7 linked regions of the Homo sapiens genome follow. The protein of the gene in region 4 purifies or fractionates together with the protein of the main gene of each other region. This does not show direct contact. Each region holds a gene or a part of one and is shown on either strand. Other genes may lie near its edges.

Evidence for each region.
Region 1: the proteins of ZGPAT (region 4) and LSM3 purify together in Homo sapiens (affinity purification with mass spectrometry; 2 studies listed by BioGRID and IntAct, with this or other methods). This does not show direct contact.
Region 2: the proteins of ZGPAT (region 4) and SNU13 purify together in Homo sapiens (affinity purification with mass spectrometry, with the first as the bait; one large-scale study listed by BioGRID). This does not show direct contact.
Region 3: the proteins of ZGPAT (region 4) and DTNB purify together in Homo sapiens (affinity purification with mass spectrometry; one large-scale study listed by BioGRID and IntAct). This does not show direct contact.
Region 5: the proteins of ZGPAT (region 4) and PRPF4 purify together in Homo sapiens (affinity purification with mass spectrometry; 5 studies listed by BioGRID and IntAct, with this or other methods). This does not show direct contact.
Region 6: the proteins of ZGPAT (region 4) and SNTB2 purify together in Homo sapiens (affinity purification with mass spectrometry; one large-scale study listed by BioGRID and IntAct). This does not show direct contact.
Region 7: the proteins of ZGPAT (region 4) and MTA2 purify together in Homo sapiens (affinity purification with western blotting; 2 studies listed by BioGRID and IntAct, with this or other methods). This does not show direct contact.

Annotation. Positions count from the first base shown.
Region 1 is NC_000003.12:14,198,720-14,201,622, forward strand, and holds the end of LSM3 (U6 snRNA-associated Sm-like protein LSm3), read left to right. Parts: 3' UTR 1-2,403; downstream 2,404-2,903. UniProt on the Homo sapiens protein: Plays a role in pre-mRNA splicing as component of the U4/U6-U5 tri-snRNP complex that is involved in spliceosome assembly, and as component of the precatalytic spliceosome (spliceosome B complex).
Region 2 is NC_000022.11:41,678,868-41,682,367, forward strand, and holds part of SNU13 (NHP2-like protein 1), read right to left. Parts: exon of another isoform or gene 3,492-3,500; coding exon of another isoform or gene 3,489-3,491; intron 1,498-3,488; coding exon 1,377-1,497; intron 1-1,376.
Region 3 is NC_000002.12:25,663,578-25,667,077, reverse strand, and holds part of DTNB (dystrobrevin beta), read left to right. Parts: intron 1-3,500.
Region 4 is NC_000020.11:63,714,539-63,718,038, reverse strand, and holds part of ZGPAT (zinc finger CCCH-type with G patch domain-containing protein), read right to left. Parts: intron 1-3,500. UniProt on the Homo sapiens protein: Transcription repressor that specifically binds the 5'-GGAG[GA]A[GA]A-3' consensus sequence. Represses transcription by recruiting the chromatin multiprotein complex NuRD to target promoters.
Region 5 is NC_000009.12:113,282,158-113,285,657, forward strand, and holds part of PRPF4 (U4/U6 small nuclear ribonucleoprotein Prp4), read left to right. Parts: intron 1-488; coding exon 489-576; intron 577-974; coding exon 975-1,054; intron 1,055-1,231; coding exon 1,232-1,325; intron 1,326-2,137; coding exon 2,138-2,232; intron 2,233-3,500. UniProt on the Homo sapiens protein: Plays a role in pre-mRNA splicing as component of the U4/U6-U5 tri-snRNP complex that is involved in spliceosome assembly, and as component of the precatalytic spliceosome (spliceosome B complex).
Region 6 is NC_000016.10:69,305,664-69,309,163, forward strand, and holds the end of SNTB2 (beta-2-syntrophin), read left to right. Parts: 3' UTR 1-3,389; downstream 3,390-3,500. UniProt on the Homo sapiens protein: Adapter protein that binds to and probably organizes the subcellular localization of a variety of membrane proteins. May link various receptors to the actin cytoskeleton and the dystrophin glycoprotein complex.
Region 7 is NC_000011.10:62,595,790-62,598,865, forward strand, and holds part of MTA2 (metastasis-associated protein MTA2), read right to left. Parts: intron 2,851-3,076; coding exon 2,733-2,850; intron 2,602-2,732; coding exon 2,538-2,601; intron 2,353-2,537; coding exon 2,235-2,352; intron 1,924-2,234; coding exon 1,821-1,923; intron 1,627-1,820; coding exon 1,527-1,626; intron 1,037-1,526; coding exon 848-1,036; intron 744-847; coding exon 669-743; intron 549-668; coding exon 490-548; intron 319-489; coding exon 221-318; intron 103-220; coding exon 1-102. UniProt on the Homo sapiens protein: May function as a transcriptional coregulator. Acts as a component of the histone deacetylase NuRD complex which participates in the remodeling of chromatin.

The sequences.
Region 1 (2,903 bases), on a different chromosome or scaffold from region 4:
GTGGTGGCGCATACTTGTAATCCCAGCTACTCAGGAGGCTGAGGCAGTAGACGCTTGAACCCAGGAGGCAGAGGTTGCAGTGAGCCAAGATCACACCATTGCACTTCAACCTGGTCAACAGAGCGAGACTCCGTGTCAAAAAAAAAAAAAAAAAAGTTTTCTGCCCTCAAGTCTTCTGGGGAGGCAGATGTTTAAACCAACAATTGCAGGCAGTAAGATTAGTGCTGATAGAATCATGCACATGCAGGATGCCATAGGAGCATGGGGAAGAGCACCCAAATATGGGAGAAAGGGGCAGAGGGACATTGTAAACATCAACCCTGCAGTAGAAGACAGAGCAAAGCATGATTTCTCTTTTCTCTGGCCTGATTTAATTCTAAGGTCAGACGTTCAGCTTGATCATAACCTGTTTATAATTATGACTCAGACCATTTTTCCACTCTTGGATCATTGGCCATTAATGATGAGGGGTCTCAAACAACATGTCTCAGTGACACAGTAAAGCAGAAATTGGCTGAAAGCAAAGCTGTTTTTATTTCTAGCTTCAGTCAGCACATAATGCTTAAAACCTAAAGAGGAAAGTAAAAGCGTGTTACAATCTCTCAAACTTTATCAAGACAGGGCTTAGAACCTGACATCCTCCGCTATGGTCATTCCATTTTGAAATGTAGAAAATCCAACTTGTGGATGGTTTGTCTGTAAATGAGCTGAATGTGTGTGCGTGTTCATTATCAAGCACGATATGCTCACAAATGCACAGTACTTTAAGCCTTGTGCAAGAAAGATGCTTTCAGTAAACATATTTAAAAGGTTTTATTTTCCTTACTAATGGTACATGCCCCTGCAAGTTCATGGAGAAGAGAAAAACAAGTGTGGGTGAGCTGATGGAGGCTTCATCTTAGGTGAGGAGGCAGGAGAGACACCCTCCCTTCACTTGTGCCATCCCCACGCTTTGTCCTTAAGCTGTAGTGGTCCCAGGAGATAACCTGTTTACAGCAGCCCATTCAGTATTGAAAAATGAACTCCCTCCTGCAGAATGTTAGAAGAAACAACCTCAAAGACCTCAGGCCGCCTGTGGTCATTAGTATGTGGCAGCAAGATTGAACCTGCCTGCCTCCTACCTGTGTGAGCCTGTGGTGTGGGTGTGGTACCAAGGCCCTGGCTCTGGGCAGTCTGTTGGCTCCTGGTGTTCACTAAGGCGTGGGGTGACAGGCCATCTGGCCTCGCTCTGCCAGTCTGCAGTTCTCCCCAGCACTGCATTCATTTTTAGTGGTTTCTGATAGTCACACTGAATTCCTGGACACTTTCTTCTCTTCATTCTTAGTTATCTTTCTCCTTTTTCTCCTGGAACTGATAGTTTACACTAAAACTTTTGGCTGTGAGGACTTGATTATACACATTTCTAAAACCCATGAACCTTAATATCTGACACTGTTACTCTCATATGCACACACAACTAAAACATACCAACCTACTTCATTTCCTAGCTGCTAAGATACAAGGGGAGGGACAATAAAAGGTTAACTGCAGAATAGCCACCTATGTGTCAGGAAATGGAGGGAGGGGAGGCAATGTGTGAGTCCTTTTGGAGCTGGGACTCAATCCACAACAGAGACAGCTCAAGCAGGGCCCTGCCATGGTCCACACTGAGGTTTCCTCTGCAGTGGTGCTGTCCACTGAGGGGTTATGGTGTGAGGGCCCCTGGGAGCCACGCCTTGGACTTCTGAGTCTGCAGAGCACTCGGCTCCAGCCAGCTGGATGGCAGGTGGTCAGTGGAGCTGGTGACTGGTGGTTTCTGCAATGAGGTGTCAGATTAGCCTAAGGGAAGCCTCTTCAGCAAGTATCATGCCTGGATCCCGGTCTTGGTTGTTTTATGAGAGGCCGATATGAATTGCCATTGCCTCCCACAAAGAAAAATGGACAAAATATGGGACCACATCTTTGAGATGAAATGTGCCCAAAATGAAAAGTAACTTGAGTATCCCAAGTTAAACTTAATCATTAGCTGCAAATGGACGATTTTCAAATTTCAAATAGTGATTTTTGAAGATTTGCCCAAACTAGAGTACTATCCCTCTTCACACTAAGAGGCAGAAAGTGGTTTCACACACCCTTTTATTTAATCAGCTAAAGTGGGTGCGGTGACACACACCTGTAAACTCAACCACTAAGGAGACTGAGGCGGGAGGATTACTTGAGCCCAGGAGTTCGAGATCAGCCTGAGCAACATAACAAGACCCTGTCTCAAATAATACTTAGCTATTACCCATATTGCTTTTAGCCTGCTGCCAGGAGGGGAGAAATGTTATTGTTTGAACAGATGTCAGATGTGAGTAATGCTCAGCTGTGTTCAATGTAGAAAATTAATAAAAGTTCCAGGAGTCATCCTGGCTAGATCAAGAAGCACAGTTGATGTTTCTCTGTCACTCAGCTCTGCTGAACTACATGGATTTCATTCGTGGGCAAGCTCTTCCCTGTAGCAGATGCAGACTTCCAGCCTACCTGCCCTCCAGCTAAAGTGGTCTCATCCTCCTTGCTTGGTCCCTGTGCCCATCTGTGGGCTGGTTTTTACGGCCATGAGAATGTGGGGCTCTGATTGGCCAGGCCTCAGTCACACGCCCATTTCTGGAACTAAGAGCAAGGTTATCCCCACCTGAGCTGTATGGTCTAAGTGCAGAAGGAGGGGTCGTTCTCTGAAGGAAACCAGAGGAAAGGGGAAATGGAGCTGGACACAATGCCTATTACACAGGAAAACTTTTAGTCTGCCCCAACTTATAGAAAAATCCCTTTGGTACTTTCCTATTAGTAACAAATTTCTTGGAACACACCTCAGACTGACACTATGACTTTAAGCTATTGCTCTGGAATCCAGGAGGTTCTGGAGCAACCTGTGTGGGGATCAG
Region 2 (3,500 bases), on a different chromosome or scaffold from region 4:
CAAACACAGTTGACAAAATCTCTGATGTTTCCATTAAAAATCTTCAACGACAAAAGAGCTCTACCACATCAAACTACCCAGCATCTATTAAAATGAGAGTATTCTGGCTGGGCATGGTAGCTCACGCCTGCTGTTATCCTAACACTTTGGGAGGCCAAGGCAGGCAGATTGCCTGAGCTCAGGAGTTTAAGACCAGCCTGGGCGACAGAGCGAGATTCTGTCTCCAAAAAAATAAAATAAAATAAAAATAAGGCTGGGCAGCCGGGCACAGTGGCTCACGCCTGTAATCCCAGAATTTTGGGAGGCCAAGGCAGGCGGATCACTTCAGGTCAGGAGTTCGAGACCAGCCTGGCCAACATGGTGAAACCTCGTCTCTACTTGAAAAAAAATAAAAATAAAAATAAGGCTGGGCACAGTGTCTCACGCCTGTAATCCCAGCAGCACTTTGGGAGGCCAAGGCAGGTAGATCACCTGAGATCAGGAGTTCGAGACCAGACTGACCAACATAGTGAAACCCCATCTTTACTAAAAATACAAAATTAGCTGGACGTGGTGGTGCATGCCTGTAATCCCAGCTACTTGGGAGGTTGAGGCAGGAGAATCATTTGAACCCGGGAAGCGGAGGTTGCAGTAAGCTGAGATCCTGCCATGGCACTCCAGCTTGGGCAACAAGAGCAAAACTCTCCAAATAAAAAAATAAATAAATAAATAAAATAAAATTAAAAAAATAATAATGAATAAAGTGAGAGTATCCTATATCACCTCTGGGCAGAAGCATCATGCATACATAATTATTCTACTGAAAAACAGCTTTTTTTTTTTCCTTTTTTACAAAGGGAGGTAGTGCTCGCTTCAGCAGTACATATACTAAAATTGGAACAATACAGAGAAGATTAGCATGACCCCTGCACAAGGATGACATGCAAATTCGTGAAACGTTCCATGTTTTTGAATAATTGCATCCAAAAAAAAAAGGGAGAGGGGTAGGGAATGTTTCTGGGAACCAAATGAAATTCATGAATGTTAAGTATCCACCGTATAAGGGATGCTAAAAAGCATTAATATCCCTTTCCTTCTGATGGCTCTGGTGAGGTCATACAGCCACTATACAGTCTCCACAACTGCTTTCAAATGGCTCAGCAAAAATAAAATTCACTTATAGAGTGAAAAAGAAGGTAAATGTGGCAAAATGTTAACAATTGGTGGGTCTAAAAAAAATTCTTAGCCCATCAGCTTTAGCATCTAATGCCAAAGTCCTCCCACTGGTTGTAGTCGAGAGCAGCTAGCCCTCCTCCCAAACTGGAAATCAGATCAGAGGCCCCAGATGGAAACAGGTGCCTTTAACATTCCCCCAGAGCATCCTGTGGCTGCCTTACCCTCATTGGCTCCTTTCCGAAGCTGCTTATAGTTACATGACTGCTGAACGAGGTCCAGTAGCTTCTTGGTGAGGTGGGCATCGGCAAGGGGATAGGCCTTTGGATTCACATCAGCCTCAGTCTATGGGGGGGACATAAAAATATCAGACAAATTGAGCCAGAAGTTTTCCTACCTGAGTCACAAAATACTAATCAACAATTGAGACACAGGGGGCAGCTGCCCTGCTCCCTAACCCTCAAACACACAAAACACCAGGTAGTTAACAATGGACTTTCCACTCCTACCTTCGAAAAAAAGGAAATACACTATTAGGAATTACACAGTTCAGTAAAGTATACTAAAGCTCATGTACTTTTGTCTTTCTTCAGCCGAATGTTTGATAATATTACAGCAAATGGATTACAAACGGGTTCCCATGGCTCCGCATCCATTTGAGTCCATGGCTAATCCATTTCTGTTTTTATTTTTTAGATGGAGTCTTGCTCTGTTGCCCACGCTGGAGTGCAGTGGTGCGATTTCAGCTTACTGCAATCTCTGCCTCCCGAGTTCAAATGATTCTTGTGCCTCAGCCTCCCAAGTAGCTGGGACTATAAGCGTGCACCACCATGCCAGGCTAATTTTGTATTTTTTGTGGAGACAGGGTTTCACCGTGTTGGCCAGGCTGGTCTCAAACTCCTGGCTCACGCCTGTAATCACAGCACTTTGGGCGGCCGAGGCGGGTGGATCACCTGAGGTCAGGAGTCCATGGGTAATCTTTAAATTTGAACTTCCGTATTCCACCTGAATTTACTGAATCAATAAGATATAATTTACAGTAAATGTAGCACAAAGTTTTCTTTCCATTCCCCACTCCATATGCGTATCTTCTGTTCAAACCCATGGTTTCCAACACATTAAAGTATTTCCTCACCTCCTCTACAATACACACAAAATGGTTCCAAAATTGCTACACCAATATACCACCTCTACCAACAAACTCACCAAAGTCAAAATTTATTTTTGTTCTTAGGATATATCCTATCAAAGCCATCCAGTGGCAGGACTTTGTTCAAAAGTTATTCAAATTAAAATTTTCCTTGTGGTTAGCAATTTGGTATACAAGTAGATTTATTTTGTAGTCAGCTTGCTTTAAATTTTATTTTTCAAATATGTAAAATATCTTCATGGTTTAAAAGTCAAAACTATGCAAGTGATAGCAACTCAATATTTTGAAAACTGGGAAAGGGAAACAATCATCTTCTGTGCCTTTCCTAAATGCTGTATTAGGCGGTAACCAGGTAGAAGATGAGAAGTACCTCTTGTATCACTCTTCCGCCTAATAAATAAAGAGGGAATGGTACAGTTAAATATCACCAACTTGCAACCCTTATTAACTAATTAATGGCATTTGCAGTTATGTTAAAAATTCTTACTTTATAGATATATACTGTAATACTTATGGATAAAATGATGTCATTCAGATCTGTGTCAAAATAACCCATGTAGGGGACGAGCGCGGTGTCTCACGCCTGTAGTCCTAGCTACTCGAGAGGCTGACGCAGAATAGCTTGAACCCAGGAGGCGGAGGATGCAATGAGCGGAGATGGCGCCACTGCACTCCAGCGTGGGCGACAGAGCGAGACTCCGTCTCAATAAATAAATAAATACACACCCATGTAGGGAGCATATTGGGTGAGTGGCCTGCCTATTCCGCTCCTTCCATCTCATTCCCACTGCTCCAGTAAATCATTTTCATTAATTTTTCTCTTTTTTTTTTTGTTTTTACAAACACATATTTATATACAAGGATATATTCATATTATAACCCAGGTGCGGCCCCACATGTCGCCATCGTGTGTAACGTGCGAATCGCGAGTGATTCACTGCGGCTACCACCTAACCTCGGCCTTGGAGGCTGGACATAGGGTGGACGGCAGTCGCTGGAGACGGAGATGGCCTGGTGGGACCACTCATCTATAGCGCCTGCCTCGGTGGTCTCCTGCCCGACACCGCGCACCTGCCTTTTCCTCCTTCCGTTTTTTTACAGCTTTTCTGACACAGCGGGACCACGCTCGCGGCACCACAGCTCTCGGGAGGTGACCCGGAGATAATGGCCCAGTAGGAACACTCACCATAGCGTCTGT
Region 3 (3,500 bases), on a different chromosome or scaffold from region 4:
TACTGGGCCTCAGTCTAGAATCAGATATGATAATTGTGGGTCAAGGGTCCTGCCCTTTGAGTTAATTGGGCTATTTTCGATCCTCTCATAGAGTATGGTCCTGAGGCTGTTTATATCTTCCCACTTATCTAAGCCTAGAGTATTAGATAAACTGTAGTTCTAGGCAGAGATTGGCAGCAGTATTTTTTAGCTTCCTTTCAGCTCCAGCATCATTGCTGGCCTTGAGCAGTGGGTCTGGCCCAGATATCTCCGTTTCTTCATCCTCCTTTGCTTTCTGTCATTACTACCTGCAGGAAGTGCACACCTGGTCTAGACTCCGGATCCAGCAAGCCTAGAGCTTCAGTCCTGCTTGCAACTTTGTGTATCTATTCTGTTTCTCCAAATAGAGGTTTATCTTGTTTTTGAGCCTAATTAAAAAAAATTGTTAAAAAATATTTTATCCATTATTGTGTATTTAGAGCAGAGAGGATGCATCAAAGAATGTACTTACTGGCCACTTTCTAGAAGATTTAATTAGCCAAGCTCCTTTCTCAACTTTATACAAAGACTTTTTTCTTTGTTATGGCATTGCCTAGGCCTTCCAGTACAAGAATAAGTATAATAATGGGCATTTTAATCTTTTTCCTGAGTGGTAATGTTTCCAGTGTTTCACTGTTAGATATGATGTTTACTGTTGGTTTTTGGAAGATGTCTTTTGTCAATTTAAGGAAGTTTTCTTCTGTTCTTGGTAAATATTTTTAATTGGGTGTTGAATTTTATGGAGGCCTTTTTTTGGGGCATTTCTTGAAATTATTTTTTCCCTTCTTTAACATGTCAAGAATAGGACAGATCTCTCTGAGTTGTAGGTAACTGAGAGAAACAGATGTATATGATTTACTTGTTAATTCACTTTTAACAAAAAACCTCACAACCTTTAAAGAAAACACATTTTAAACTTGAATTTTTGTATACTAACATTATATATAAGTTAAAATAGGGCTGAAATGCTGTAGTAATCAGGTTTGGACTAAATATCATCGTAACTTCACTATATTTGAATAGTACCTAATAATATCAATAATAGTAGCTAACATTTATTGGGCTCTTACTGGATGCCATTGTGCTAAATGCTTTACATGATATTGATTTAAGAGTTACCACAGCCCCGTGAGGTTATTTAGCTACTCAGAACTCTTTGTTGTAGTGGAGTGCAGTTACTGAATTTTTTTATTGGAACCTAGAGAACTCTCTCAGATTTGTAAAAAGCAAATCTTTAAGGTTTTATGAACATTTATTTTCCCTGGCCTTTTTTTTTTTTTTTTAAATCTGAAAGAGAAGAGAAAAGAAGTATTAAAGGAAGAATATTTGAGAATTTTTCTGAAATAAGCAAGGAAGTTCTCTTTCAATAAAGTTTGGCTTGTTGTAACTAAGTGTTAATGAGAGTCTTAGTCATCACTAACTTTTTTTTTTTTTGAGACGGAGTCTTGCTCTGTCATCCAGGCTGGAGTGCAGTGGCACGATCTCAGCTCATTGTAACCTCTACCTCCTGGGTTCAAGGGATTCTCTTGCCTCAGCCTCCCAAGTAGCTGGGACTATAGGCGCATGTCACCATATCTGGCTATTTTTTTCTATTTTTATTAGAGACTGGGTTTCATTGTGTTAGCCAGGATGGTCTCCATCTCCTGACCTCGTGATCCACCCGCCTCAGCCTCCCAAGGTGCTGGGATTACAGGCATGAGCCACCGCGCCTGGCCCCTCACTGACTTCTTAATTAAATGGACATCCAAAGAAAAACTGACAGGGAGATGGTGGGAGGTGGTGAACTTACATAAGAAATTTCAATACTTGGATGCTTTGACGTAGCTGAGAGCTGGCAGGGTTAAGAAATTAACAAAAAGATGGAAAGGAAATAAAGGCTATTTAACACAAAGGCATGTACAGAGACATCCTGGAGACACTTCCAAAGCCTTCTCTCCTTTTCCTTTAGTCTTTACTGTGGGAGTTACGTAACTTCTGCGTGTAGACGTAGTCCAGGTGTGAAACACTCTATTTTCTATGAATAGAACAGAGTGTAAGAACTAACAAGGATCCAAACTTTTTGCTGCACTCTCTTCAGATCCTACTTAGCTCCATGATTTAAGGTCTGATCCAGCACCACAGTTTTGGGACCTGTGTTCTTTCCTTATTCCTTGAGGCCTCATGTTGCCCTGGAGGGGGCGATGTGACACAATAGAAAGAAAATGGGCTCTAGCGCTTTAGCATCGTCATGGTCAACTCCGCAGATTCCTAGCTTTGCAACTTCAGGCCAAGTTACCTGACCACTTAGACTTTAGTTTCCTCTCTACTTCTAACACCCCTAATCCTGAAAATCTCCTCAAGCTCAGCACGGTCTTGTCTTCTCACCTACTTTTAAAAAGAGCAATAGTCTCCAAAGTGGGAGGTATGTAAAATGATCCTCTAGGCAGGGTGTTACAAGAAAATATGAGCAATCAAGTTTTACCAGTATTTGACCCATAGGTTGACACTTTACTTCATCTGTGTGTCTGATGATGTCTGTCACGTACGGTAAGCTAGGGAACCCCACCGCCTGGAGGGGCTGATACTGTGATCCTCCTTATTTACCTGCTTATATTGTTTTAGCACATGTTTTAGTTCACCTCTGCTGGGTTTAGTGGTCTTTCAGATCATATTACCTGATTTGAATAAAATGAACTTTGCTAAATAGACAGATGGCTCACAAAGATTCCTGCAAAGAAAATGCAGATTGAAGTTTCAGAGTCAGCAGAAGATTGAAGTAATAATACAAATACACGTGAACAGCCAGAAAGAAACAGAGTGGATACTTCTATTTATATTATGAACTTGTCAGTCAAATGCATAATATAAAAACAATGGTGATCTCATCAGATTGATGAAAAAGCAGTAATAAAAAATAGCTTAGAATTACTAAAAATACTATTTAAAATATGGACTTATATACACTGTTGAGTACATTGTACCTGAAGGTATTTACTAATGATATTATGGGCTAATCTTATAAATTGAGATATTTAAAAACTAAATATTCAGAATATAAAGACAGACTTATTGATGTTTTTCAGTGATTGTCAGTCATAATCCAGTACCTTAAAATTTTATTAAGGTTAATAATACATTTTTAGAAGTTCCTTTTGAGGTTTAGGAATAAAAGACAAAAAGTCATAAACTCTTGTTCTTCTTGTTTGGTAACAGTGGCTGAAATGATATATAGATAAATAATTTGAGTTTGGTGTAAAACTGAAAAGTATCCTGTATTAGCAACTGTTGTTGAGATACTGGTAGAACACGTTGCTGAAGATTTTGAAATGATGGCTATTGTACCAAATTTTAGAGTTCATGGGAGTTCATGTATATTTGGATAAAAGTACAGAGCTTATGGTATTTGGTATACTCTGTTTCAATAATAAAATATATGGAAATATATGGAGAACTGTGCTCCCCACCCCCGCTAAAACACTCAGGATAAGACTTACCAGAGAATT
Region 4 (3,500 bases):
GGAGTTTTGCTTTTGTTACCCAGGCTGGAGTGCAATGGTGTGATCCTGGCTCACTGCAACCTCTGCCTCCCAGGTTCAAGCGATTCTCCTGCCTCAGCCTCCTGAGTAGCTGGGATTACAGGCACCTGCCACCACGCCCAGCTAATTTTTGTATTTTTAGTAGAGATGGGGTTTCTCCCTGTCGGCCAGGCTGGTCTCGAACTCCTGACCTTAGGTGATCCACCCACCTTGGCCTCCCAAAGTGCTGGGATTACAGGTGTGAGCCACTGTGCCTGGCCTCTGCAAAAACTTATAAAAGAAATTAGTTAGGTGCAGTGGTGTACACCTGTAGTCCCAGCTACTTGGGAGGCTGAGGCAGGAGGACTGATTGAGTCCAGGAGCTCAAGGCTACAGAGCTATGATCGCATCGCTGCTCTCCAAACGGCAACAGAGTGAGACTGTGTCTCAAACAACAAAACAACAACAAAAAACAATCTTATGGAATGCAGTGAAAGCAGTGTTTAGAGGGAAATCTGTAGCTGTAAATGCTTACATTCAAAAAGAAACACCTTGGCCGGGAAACGTCTACTCAGGAGGCTGAGGCAGGAGAATCGCCTGGGCGGCGGAGGCTGCAGTGAGCTGAGATCATGCCACTGCACTCCAGTCTGGGTGACAGAGGGAGACTCCATCTCAACAGCAACCAAAAAAAAAAAAAAAAAAAAAAAAAGAAAAGAAAAAAGAGATCTCAAATCAATAACTTAACTGTATACCTTGAAAAATTAGGGGAAAAAAAGAGCAAATTAAACCCAAACCAGCAGAAAAAAGGAAACAAAGGTTAAAATGGAAATAAATGAAACAGAATGGGAAAACAATAGAGATCAGCAACAAAAAAGATCAACAAAATTGACAAACCTTTAGCGAAAATGACCAAGAAGAAAAGACAGGCCATGCGTGGTGGCTCATGCCTGTAATCCTAGCACTTTGGGAGGCCAAGGCTGGTGGATAACCTGAGGTCAGGATTTCAAGACCAGCCTGGCCGACAGGGAGAAACCCCATCTCTACTAAAAATACAAAAACTGGCTGGGCATGGTGGCTCATGCCTATAATCCCAGCACTTTGGGAGGCCAAGGTGGGCGGATCACCTCAGGTAGGGAGTCCAAGACCAGCCTGGCCAACATGGTGAAATCCCATCTCTACTAAAAATATAAAAATCAGCCAGGCGTGGTGGTGCACGCCTATAGTTCCAGCTACTCAGGAGGCTGAGGCAGGAGAATTGCTGGAATCTGGGAGTCGGAGGTTGCAATGAGTGAGATTGCACCACTGCACTCCAGCCTGGGAGACAGAAACAGACTCCGTCTCAAAAACAAAAAAACAAAACAAAACTAGCTGGGTGTGGTGGCTCACACCTGTAATCCCAGCTACTCAGGAGGCTAAGGCAGAATTGCTTGAACCTGGGAGGCAGGGGTTGCAGTGAGCCAAGATCATGCCACTGCACTCCAGCCTGGGTGACACAGTGAGACTCCATCTCAAAAAAAAAAAAAGAGGAAGAAAAGAGATGACTCAAATTGCTAAAACCAAGAGAGAAAGTGGAGCTATTACTACTGATCTTACAGAAATAACTAGGGCTATAAAAGGATACTATGAACAATTGTATGGTAACAGATTAGATAACATAAACAAAATGGACAAATTCCTAGAAACATGCATGCAAACTATCTAAACTGACTCAAGGCTGGACGCGGTGGCTTATGTCTGTAGTCCCAGCACTTTGTGAGGCCGAGGCGGGTGGATCACCTGAGGTCAGGAGTTCGAGACCAGCCTGGCCAACATGGTGAAATGCTGTTCCTACTAAAAATACAAAAATTAGCCAGGTATGCTGGCGTGCGCCTGTAGTCCGAGATACTGGGGAGGCTGAGGTGGGAGAATCACTTGAACTCGGGAGGTAGAAGTTGCAGTGAGCCAAGATGGCACCACTGCACTCCAGCCTGGGCGACAGAGCGAGACCAAACTGACTCAAGAAGAAACAGAAAATCTGAATAGACCTATAACAAATAAAGAATCAGTAGTCAAAAAACTTCCAATGAAAGAAAAGTTCAGAAACTTTCACTACAGTTATACGTTTTAGCTTCCAAAAAGAAAAGTCAATTTCAATAAGGAAATTGAATCAATAGTCAATAAACTTCCAACAAAAGAAAAGTCCATCTCTCTCTCTCTCTCTCTCTCTCTATATATGATTGTATATATCACTTCACTGTTGAATTCTATCAAACATTTGAAGAAGAATTAACACCAATCCCTTTTTACCTCTTCCCATAATATAAAGAATACTTCCTAACTCATTCTATGAGGCCAATATTATGCTGGCATCAAAGCTATACAAAGACATGCCAAGAAAAGAAAACTACAGACCAATATCCCTTATCAATACAGATGCAAATATTCTCAACAAAACAGCAGCAAATCAAATCCAGCAATGTTATTACATGATAAGGCCTTAAACTTTTAACTGTTAAAAAGATAAGGCTCGCTGCGGTGGCTCACGCCTGTAATCCCAGCACTTCGGGAGGCCAAGGTGGGTGAATCACGAGGTCAGGAGTGCAAGACCAGCCTGTCCAACATGGCAAAACACCGTCTCAACTAAAAACACAAAAAATTAGCTGGGCATAGTGGCGGGCACCTGTAGTCCCAGCTACTCAGGAGGCTGAGGCAGGAGAATTGCTTGAACCCGGGAGATGGAGGTTGCAGTGAGCCGAGATCGCGCCACTCACTCCAGCCCGGCGACAGAGTGAGACTCTGTCTCAAAAAAAAAAAAAAAGAAAAAGAAAAAAGATAGGGCCAAGTGGCTCATGCCTATAATCCCAGCGCTTTCGGAGGCTGAGGCAGGAGGATCACTTTAGCCCAGGAGTTTGAGACCAGCTTGGGCAACAGAGTGAAATCTCATCTCTACAAAAATAATAATAATAAAGAGATAATACGCCATGAATATGCGTGCTTTATCTGAGGAATTCAAGGATGGTTCAACATACGAAAATCAATATACCACATTAACAAAATGAAAGGAAAAAAACCACACATGATCATCTAAAGGAAAAAAGCATTTGAAAAATCCCACACAGCTGGGTGCAGTGCAGTGACTCACCCCTGTAATCTCAGCACTTTGGGAGGCTGAGGCAGGATTGCTTGAGCCCTGGAGTTTAAGACCAGCCTGGGCAGCAAAGCAGGACCCTACCTCTACAGAAAAATTAAAAAATTAGCTGGGCATGGTGGCTCATGCCTGTAGTCTCACCTACTCAGGAGGATGAAGTAGGAGGATCCCCTGAGCCCAGGAATTCGAGGTTGCAGTGAGCCATGATCATGCCACTGCCCTCCAGCCTGGGTGACAGAACAAGACCCTATCTTTAAAAAAAAAATCAACACCCTTTCATGATAAAAAACACTCAACACACTATGAATATAAGAGAATTTCCTCAACTCGATAAAGGGAATCTACAGAAAACCTACAAGTAACATCATATTCAACA
Region 5 (3,500 bases), on a different chromosome or scaffold from region 4:
TCCCCACTTGACTCTTAAAGAAGGTTCCTGGAGGGCCGGGTATAGTGGCTCATGCCCGTAATCCCAGCACTTTGGGAGGCTGAGGCAGGAGGATCACTTGAGCCCAGAAGTTCAAGACTTGCCTGGGCAACATAGCAAGCCCTTCTCTCTACAGAAAAATTTAAAAATTAGCCAGTTGTAGCAGTGTACATGTAGTCCCAGCCACTCGGGAGGCTGGAGTGGGAGGATCGCTTGAGCTCAGGAGGTTGAGGCTGCAGTGACCCATGATCATGCCACTGCACTCCACCCTGGGCAACAACAAGACCTCATCTCTTAAAAAGAAAAAAAAAAGGTTGCTAGGTGGTTTGAACAGTGAGAGAATAGTAAAGGCTTGCTCCCATCTTAGGGGAACTTTAATAACAGTGTTTAAAACTGTGTTAAAGTGTACTTTAAAAACAGTATTATCTCAACCATGTTTAAATTCTGATCTTTTTTTTTTTTTTTAACAGGTTAAGAAATATCCTCTCAGTTGTCGGTACTGATGCCTTGAAAAAGACCAAAAAGGATGATGAGAAGTCTAAAAAGTCCAAAGAAGAGGTAGAACATGTCTTTAACTTCACAGTATAAACATGAAGGAAATGAGGGGATAGGTCTCTCGTTTTCTGCTTTCAATGGTTTGTTTTGCTGAGATGTTGGGGGAAATGTTTTTGAAGGCTCTACCATTCAAGAAGAGTTGCTGGCAGTAGTTTTGGTTCCTTTGTAAGTATGAATGGAGCTAAGTGAGTTTTCCAGTCAGGAAAGAATCATGGCATTCCTGGTATAACCATGTAGTTACATATCATAGAAAAAAATTCAGTAGAAAGTCCTCTGCCTGATTTCATCCTATTACCGAATGAATTCACCTTCCTTCTGGGCAGTTAAAATGGAGAAATGACAGTTATAAGAGGAGTAGAATGCTTCAGATTTGACCTTTCTGCTCTTAATTTGCCTTTCAGTATCAGCAAACCTGGTATCATGAAGGACCAAATAGCTTGAAGGTGGCAAGACTATGGATTGCTAATTATTCGTTGCCCAGGTAAAGAGAGCCTCCAGTAGAAGAAAGAAGCATATTTTTTGTGTGTGTTTCCTCTCAGGAACTGAGTGCTGGATAATGACTATGGTTGTTAAATGAAATTGAGGGGTAGAGTAGGGATACATGTGGGTCCTTGTTTACAACCCTGTTGCTCCTGGTGATGGTGTTTCTGTGTCGCAGGGCAATGAAACGCTTGGAAGAGGCCCGACTCCATAAGGAGATTCCTGAGACAACAAGGACCTCCCAGATGCAAGAGCTGCACAAGTCTCTCCGGGTAAGATGCTCCCAGCAATTGTCCCACATCTTAAAGGTTCTTCATGTTTATTTGATTTTTCTACTTTGGCTCACCTCTGGGAAGGTAGAGGCAACTAGAGTGATTCCTCCCTGCTTAAGTTGAGCTGCTGTGACATGGAAGGAGCCATCAGTTAATGTGGCAGGAGCTTACTGTGCTTTGTATTCAGCAGAGGCCTATGGTTCTATTCTTTATTTCTCCCCGTTAATATGTCAGAGTTTCTCTGGGGTTTTCTGTTTATATTTAGCTGACTCAGAAGTTGTGATCCTAAGACTGTAGAAAACATCTGGGCACAGTGGCTCAGTCCTGTAATCCCAGCATTTTGGGAGGCAGAGGCAGGCGGATGACTTGAGCCTCAGGAGTTTGAGACCAGCCTGGTCAACATGGTGAAACCCTGTCTCTACTAAAAATACAAAAATTTGCCAGGTGTGATAGCATGTGCCTATAATCCCAGGTACTTGGGAGGCTGAGACGGGAGGATTGCTTGAACCCGGGAGGCGGAGGTTGCAGTGAGCCAAGATCACGCCACTACACTCCACCCTGGGCAACACAGCAAGACTCTGTCTCAAAAAAAAAAAAAAAAAAAGACTATAGAAAACAGCATGCTGGAGTTTCATATAACTTCATTTATCAATGTATGTGTCTTCTAACAGCAGCAACAAAACCATAGAAGAATCTTGGGATGGGTTAAAACTGAAAAGCTGCTTTGTTGTTCTTTTTATGGTGGAAAAGCAAAGGAGCTCTTAGATTAACCTATTAATGATCACCGTGTGTGTATTTTTTTTCTTTTTAAGTCTTTGAATAATTTTTGCAGTCAGATTGGGGATGATCGGCCTATCTCCTACTGTCACTTTAGTCCCAATTCCAAGATGCTGGCCACAGCTTGTTGGTAAGTTCCATTTTACAATGACATTTTTTCCTAAATGGGGAACAGGCTCAGGAAGAAAATTAGCATTTGCGTTAGACGTCTATTTCTACGTCCTCTTTCTCTGCTTCTCATGATCACACCAAACTACAGATGTCAGTCAGTGCTCTACCTGTTGTATAATACAATGTAGCCTTGGTTTAGCCGTTCTCGCTCTTCACCAGTGACCCCAGAGATCCATTACACAAAGCACTCTGTCACATTCTTGACACTAGTATTTTGGAACAGGTCCTGTAGTGAGTTTATAGACCAACTAGTATCCATAACTCAGTCTGGCTTTTCTTTTTCAGTTATGTGACCTCGCTAAGATACTTAATTTCTGTAAGCTTCAGTGTTCTTACCTGTAAAGTGGGATGAGGTAGTGTTTGCAAGGCATTTTGCCTTGACAGTGCCTGGTATGTAGTAAGGACTCGTTAAACGTTAATTATTGGTTTATCTTTGTTTTATTTTCTTATCACCACATATGCAGAAAACTCAGGATGTGGTAACTTTGTTGTTTTGTTTGAGTTTGGTTGTGTTTTTCTGTGGGACATGGCTATCTAATGAGAAAGGAAACTTAGATTGAATACACAGGAGCTACTTGACTAGGCTGACCTTTAGATGGGTTCAGGAGAAAGCCAAGGTTCTGCACAAATGAGTCCACCTCTCCAAGCCTCATTACCTTCACTATAAAGTTTGATCGTTCCTGCCGTACCTGCTTCACAGGTCTGTTAGAAAGATCATCCGAGATAATAGATATAAAAGTAATTTGTTGAAAAATTTCCAAAATAAGAAGTCTCTAAAAAGTTTAAGGCCAGCCAGCCATGGTGGCTCACACTTGTAATCCCAGCACTTTGGAAGGCCACGGCAGGAGGATCACTTGAGCCCAGGAGTTTGAGACCAGGCTGGGCAACAATAGTGAGACCCTGTCTCTACAAATTTTTTTTTTTTTTTTTTTTTTTTTTTTTTTTTTTTTTTTTTTTTTTTTTTTTGAGACGGAGTGTCACACTTTCGGCCAGGCTGGAGTGCAGTGGCGCGATCTCGGCTCACTGCAAGCTCCACCTCCTGGGTTCACGCCATTCTCCTACCTCAGCCTCCCAAGTAGCTGGGACTACAGGCACCCGCCACCGCACCCAGCTAATTTTTTGTATTTTTAGTAGAGACAGGGTTTCACCGTGTTAGCCAGGATGGGCTCGATCTCCTGACCTTGTGATCTGCCCGCCTTGGCCTCCCAAAGTGCTGGGATTACAGGT
Region 6 (3,500 bases), on a different chromosome or scaffold from region 4:
TATCTCTGTCAGGTATGACATTAATTACCAGGTGGTATTATACTCTACTTTGAGTTTGGACATCACTTTCAGTTAAATTTCTGTTGTTATTGTGGCTTTTTTTTTTTTTTAACCCCACTGAAGATGGAAGTAGAGCAGTCTGCCATCTCCTGCTGTTCTTTCTCTGTGCCCCCTAATTGCTTGGTAATCTAAAATTATTCTGACTTTCCACATACTGTCTTTAAAAACCAATTGTAGCAATCTGCCCGCCTCCACCCTTTAAGCTAAATCTTTCACTGTGCTGGATACATAGACACTCGATAAATGTGTGATGATAGTTCTAAAATAATTATGCTATATATCAGGGTTCTGTATTTTTGAGCAATATCATTATTCCTATGCTGTGATGTTAAATGGAATTTATTTTACACTAGTAATAGACTGCTTAAGTGGCTGATTTGAAACCTTTCTCTAAAAAAACAAAAACATCTGGCAGATGAGTGACACAAATTCATTCTCTTAAAGGATAGAATTTCAAGTTAAGGATAAGGCACAATAAATAGGCACATAGAGGACATCTGTTTTTGTTTTTGGTTTTGGTTTTGTTTTTTTTTGTCTCTCTGACTAGCTAAACTGCCAACTAGAAGAATGGTTGTTATGTAGTAACTCAGAAGAATCTTTTAATAAGTTTCTTCTTTTGTTTCAAAACAAACTTGAGCTTCATTTCTTGCCACCTCTATTCTTTCTTCCCACGTTGGGTGACTGAACTGATGCTTATTCTAGTTTTAGAAGAGGATCCACATTTAATGTAAGGCATAAATATGCCTTTTGCAAATTATTGCTTGTTCTCCAGTGAACATTTGATCATATTCAACAGAAATCCACCATATAAACCATAATCCTTGAATTGCCCCTTTTAAAATAGATTGGTTAAAACCAAAAACCTATAAGAGAGAAATGATATTTCATTGTATTGTAGGTTTGGGAATCCTGGTTAGATTTATAATTTCTGGCCGGGTGCGGTGGCTCATGCCTGTATTCCCAGTACTTTGGGAGCCCAAGGTGGGTGGATCACCTGAGGTAAGGAGTTTGAGACCAGCCTGGCCAACATGGTGAAACCCCATCTCTACTAAAAATACAAAAAGTTAGCTGGGCATGGTGGTGCGCGCCTGTGGTCCCAGCTACTCGGGAGGCTGAGGTGGGAGAATCCCTTGAACCCAGGAGGCAGAAGTTGCAGTGAGCTGAGATCATGCCATTGCACTCCAGCCTGGGCAACAGAGCGAGACTTCATCTCCAAAAAAAGAAAAAGAAGAAAAAGATTTATAATTTCTGAGTCCCCTAAGTCCCTTTCTCAGTTTGCAATAATCTTACGTCCATGCTATTGACACTAATTTTGAAACTGGAAAGCTAATTAATGACATATTCATGTGTTCTTTCATCTAATAAACATTTATTAATGTATAGTTCTACACCAGGCATTCTGAAGGGTCCAAAAGAAAGTTCCTGCCCTCTAGTAGCACATAATCCGTTATTTCTCAGCACACCATGCCATCTGTTTATCATTCAGCAGTTAAGTAATTCATCACTTCATATTTTTACCAAAGTATATTTACAAGTCTGTTTATCTGGATCTGGCAAACTGGAAAATGTTTGAAGGGATACTCAGGCTTTGATCCATGCCAACATGAAAGGACTCCAAGCACATTTAAGTAGGCTGGTCTTTTCATCATGCATGATTTTTTTTTTAGTGCAAATTTAGACTTTAGTTTGGGAAAGAGAACAGTATACAGTATCCTTTGTAAGATAAATCACAACAACAAAAATTAAGTTTTATTGCACAAAGTAGATAAATGAGAAAGTCTTTCTTAAAAAATGCTTCTTTAACTGTAACAGCAAAACTAAATGCATATTTTATCAACCCCTTATTTCTAATTGCTGTATTCATTTCCACCCTTAAACTATTTAAGCATTTCATCTGCTGAAAGTCCTTATATACATGGTAGACGGAATATTTCTCCATTAATGATAGATCAAAATGAAGATATTTAAAAATTAACAAAATCAGGCCAAGGCAGGAGGATCACTTTAGCCCAGGAGGTCCAGACCAGCCTGGGCAACACAGCGGGACCCCGACTCCATTTAAAAAATTAAAAAAAAAAAAAAAACTTTTAACATTTAAAAAATAAAAATTAACAAAATTTCACTTATTCCAGGACACGCTGGCATTTGGACTCAATGAAAAGGGCACCTAAAGAAAATAAGGCTGACTGAATGTTTTCCATAATTTTCACACAATAACAGTCCCTTTCTATCCAGCTTGCCTTCCATTTATCTCTAGGGTTAGCTTTTCAGGCAACATCCTTGGTCATTGCCCAGAAAGTACCTGAGCTATCAGTGATTGGAATGGCACAGGAAACCGAATCACATGGGTGCCCTCCCCTTGGTTTTCAAGTATCTTGGAGTTGTGCACAAAAATTAGGTCATGCCTTCAGTGTCTTGTTCTTTAAACCTACCCTTTGACAATCAGGTGCTAATGATTGTATACTATTAAAACCAGCACATAAGTATTGTAAATGTGTGTTCCTCCTAGGTTGGAAGAAATGTCTTTCCTTCTATCTGGGTCCTGTTAAAGCGGGTGTCAGTTGTGTCTTTTCACCTCGATTTGTGAATTAATAGAATTGGGGGGAGAGGAAATGATGATGTCAATTAAGTTTCAGGTTTGGCATGATCATCATTCTCGATGATATTCTCACTTTGTCGCAAATCTGCCCTTATCGTAAGAACAAGTTTCAGAATTTTCCCTCCACTATACGACTCCAGTATTATGTTTACAATCCATTGGATGAGTGCAGCATTATAAGACCTTGGTGCCCAGAAAAATCTGTCCTTTTTGGTACCAAACCTGAGGTCTTTTGGAAGATAATGTAGAAAACCACTACCTATTGAAGGCCTGTTTTGGCTAATCTGTGCAAACTCTGATGATACCTGCTTATGTGGATTCTTTTCCACACTGCTTTCATTTTTAAGTATAAAGACTTAGAAAACTAGAATAATGCTTTTACAAATAATTAAAAGTATGTGATGTTCTGGGTTTTTTCCTTCTTTTTAGAACCCTGTATTTAAACAAGCCTTCTTTTTAAGTCTTGTTTGAAATTTAAGTCTCAGATCTTCTGGATACCAAATCAAAAACCCAACGCGTAAAACAGGGCAGTATTTGTGTTCCTAATTTTAAAAAGCTTTATGTATACTCTATAAATATAGATGCATAAACAACACTTCCCCTTGAGTAGCACATCAACATACAGCATTGTACATTACAATGAAAATGTGTAACTTAAGGGTATTATATATATAAATACATATATACCTTTGTAACCTTTATACTGTAAATAAAAAAGTTGCTTTAGTCACGTGGGTTGTTTTTTTTTTCCAATTTTTAAAATGCTGAAATAGTTTTGAACCTACAGGAAAGTTACAAAAACAATACAAATCTTCTTCACCCAAACCTTCCAGTTGTTAAC
Region 7 (3,076 bases), on a different chromosome or scaffold from region 4:
TCTTCAGTCCCCCATACTTCTTCCAGTAGATCCAACAGGAAGCACAGAGGCGGCACTGCATGTTAGGTGGGCCCCAGGCATACCACTGAGCAGACTGTGTGGCTGTAGAGTACGGAGAGGAGGGGGACAGGGAAGAAGCATACTACCTAAGCCCCTCAGATTCTTGAGCCACAGCAGGCCTTCCACCCATCCCCACCATCCCAGTGCCCCCGTAACTCACTGTGGCAACTCTCACAAGTCAGGCCCTTCTGAAATCCAGCCCCATTCATGCCAGGTTTTGAACCCACAGAAATGATCTGGTTAGGGTTTGGCTTAGTGCTAACGGGGAAGGCGAGGAGAAGGGAAAAAAACAAGAAACTGGTCAAGGAAAAGAATCAATTTCCACTCTCAGTGTGCCCCTACCTCCTGCCCACCCCCAATCACTGAGGAAGGCACAAGTTAGGGGAAGGGAAGGAAAACACTCTGGTCTCCCCTACCCACCACACTTACTAGGTGGGAATGTAGACCTGTTTCAGTTTGCTGTCTGCTTCAGCAGCTTTCAACCTTTTCTGTAAGAAGGTAAAAAGAAAGAGAAGGATCAGAGCCTCATAGCAGGGAGAATGTCATCAACTTCAAAGGCAGAGGTCAGCAGGTAGCCTATGGTCCACCCTCCCCAGCCCAGATAATACCTGCTGAATATACCGGTCTGTGGTTTTCCACATGTAATAAAACTGGACTATGCTGGCAAGTGACTTCCAGGGTAGCTAAGGGGGGCAGAGGGAGGAAGAATGAGCTGGCATCTGGCCCCAGGTCCTGGTTCCCTCACCTGTCATCTCTCCCACTTCTCCTCCTAGTGCCATCCACTTACAAAATCCTGGCGAATATCATTGAAGTCCTTCCCATACTTCTCTAGGGCCTCCTCAAATAGCATGGCCTCTGAGGCTGACCATTCCTCCATCTCATCCCGACACAGCACCGGGCCTCCCTGGGGTACCAGGGTCGACATGGCCTTAGCCAGGTCGTAGCCGTTCCTTTGCAAGGTATCCATGGCGTGAAACTATGGGGAAGATGGAGAGCAACTGAGGACCTGAAACTTTTGGCACCACTCCCTTCCTGCTCCTTAAAACACTCCCACTCCCGGCCGGGCGCGGTGGCTCACACCCATAATCCCAGCACTTTGGGAAGCGGAGGCGGGCAGATCACGAGGTCAGGAGATCGAGATCATCCTGGCTAAAACGGTGAAACCCCGTCTCTACTAAAAATACAAAAAATTAGCCAGGCGTGGTGGCGGGTGCCTGTAGTCCCAGCTATTCGGGAGGCTGAGGCAGGAGAGTGGTGTGAACCCGGGAGGCGGAGCTTGCAGTGAGCTGAGATTGCGCCACTGCACTCCAGCCTGGGCGACAGAGCAAGACTCCTCTCAAAACAAAACAAAACAAACAAAAAAAAAACACTCCCACTCCCTCAGAGATACCCTCCTCTTCTGTTCCCAGGCTCTGCAAGTCCCCAGAAAACCCAGCCTGCCCAACTACCCACCAACTTCTGCTCACCAGAGTGATATCTCGGGAGGCAGCAGCTGCACTCATGTGCAAGCTTGGCTGCCGAATGGAGCTGCTACAATCTAGGGCTCTTGCAAAGGTTCCCACAGCTCTAAGGGAGAAATTGAGAAGTCAAAAGCGAAAGAAAAGTCAAAAGCCCAAGTGGGCTGGGAAATTAAGCCAAAGGAGAAAGAAGGAAAACATCCATGGCAATGAAAGAAATAAAGTCCATCTCTAAGAACCATGGGACTCAGAACAATGTCCACACCTCCCCCAGCCCATCTTCCCTATCCACCCACCCCTCACCGGGCCACCACAAGAAACTGGTCGATCTGCCGGTCTGTGAGAGGGTTGTCTGGGTCCCAGACCTTCATCTCCATCTTCTGCTGGTTCCGATTATCAGATTCTCCTGGGGAAAAGAACAATGGCATCAACAGGGAGAGGGCAGGGGGGAACAGTTGGTGTCTTTTCATTCACAATAGCACCTCCTCCTTCTCTTCTTCTGCTTGGATTCTATCAACTCTCCGACTTCTCTTCCCAACTGTTCCCATTTTCCCTTTTCAGGTTCCTACAGGCCCATTCTGTCAGGGTCATGGCAGAGAGCCCTGCAGACAGTGCACTGCACAACCCCAGGTGACGCCATTCACAGAGACTATAATGTTAAAGTGCCCCTTGGAATTAGACAACCTGGTAGCCGTACAGTCTTGTCCTGTTGCTTACCCTCTACTAGGCGATCTGGGATCTCAGCTTGGTATTTGCAACCAACTCTAATCTCGCCCTGATCAGCGAGAAGTGTCTTCTGCACGGGGTCAAACACCAGTGAGTAAAAAAAGCAGTCCTGGAATTGGGGAGAGACAAGGTAAGCAAGGCAGCAATCCACATAGGCGGCGGGGAGGGAGGTGTATCTGAGTTTCCATGACCGGCAGTCTGGCAACCCTGTACCTCATCATTGTGCTCCTTTCCCCCTCTCTTTTGCGGGCAATACCCATTCCCCTCGCTCTTCTCTCAACATCTCTTTCTCACCTCCTTTTCCAGGTACTGGCTCAAGATATCTGTCTCATTCAAGAGGGTCACACTGCATTTCCCCCTATAGGAGAGAGATTGGAAAACCCCGGTGAGCCCCACTCTCCCTCCCCACAGCATCTCTCAATACCACCTCCTTCTCTCCATCTTCTACGTAAGTGCACGCAGGCTATGCTGGCCCCAGTTGTCCTGTACCGTATGTGGGTGGCTGGTAATGATTCAAATTGCCGAGAAAGAAAAAGTTCCCGGTGCTTCAGTTGATGGCGCTGCTGCTCAGACACCCCTGGCTGCTTTGATTCCTCTTCAAACTCCCCTGGGAGATTAAAGAGGAAGAAACCAAGTCAGAAATGGATCCAGCAAAACACCACCCTGGAAACTCTAACTCAGGGAAAATATTTCCTATCTTGGCTGTTTTTTTCTCACATTTCCCAGGCGTCTGCCTTCTATACCCTTATCCCACCAGCTTTCCTTCTTAGCTCTATGCCCCATCATAGATGCTCCCAACTCTATCAGTAATGCTTTTAGAGAAGAACTGCTGA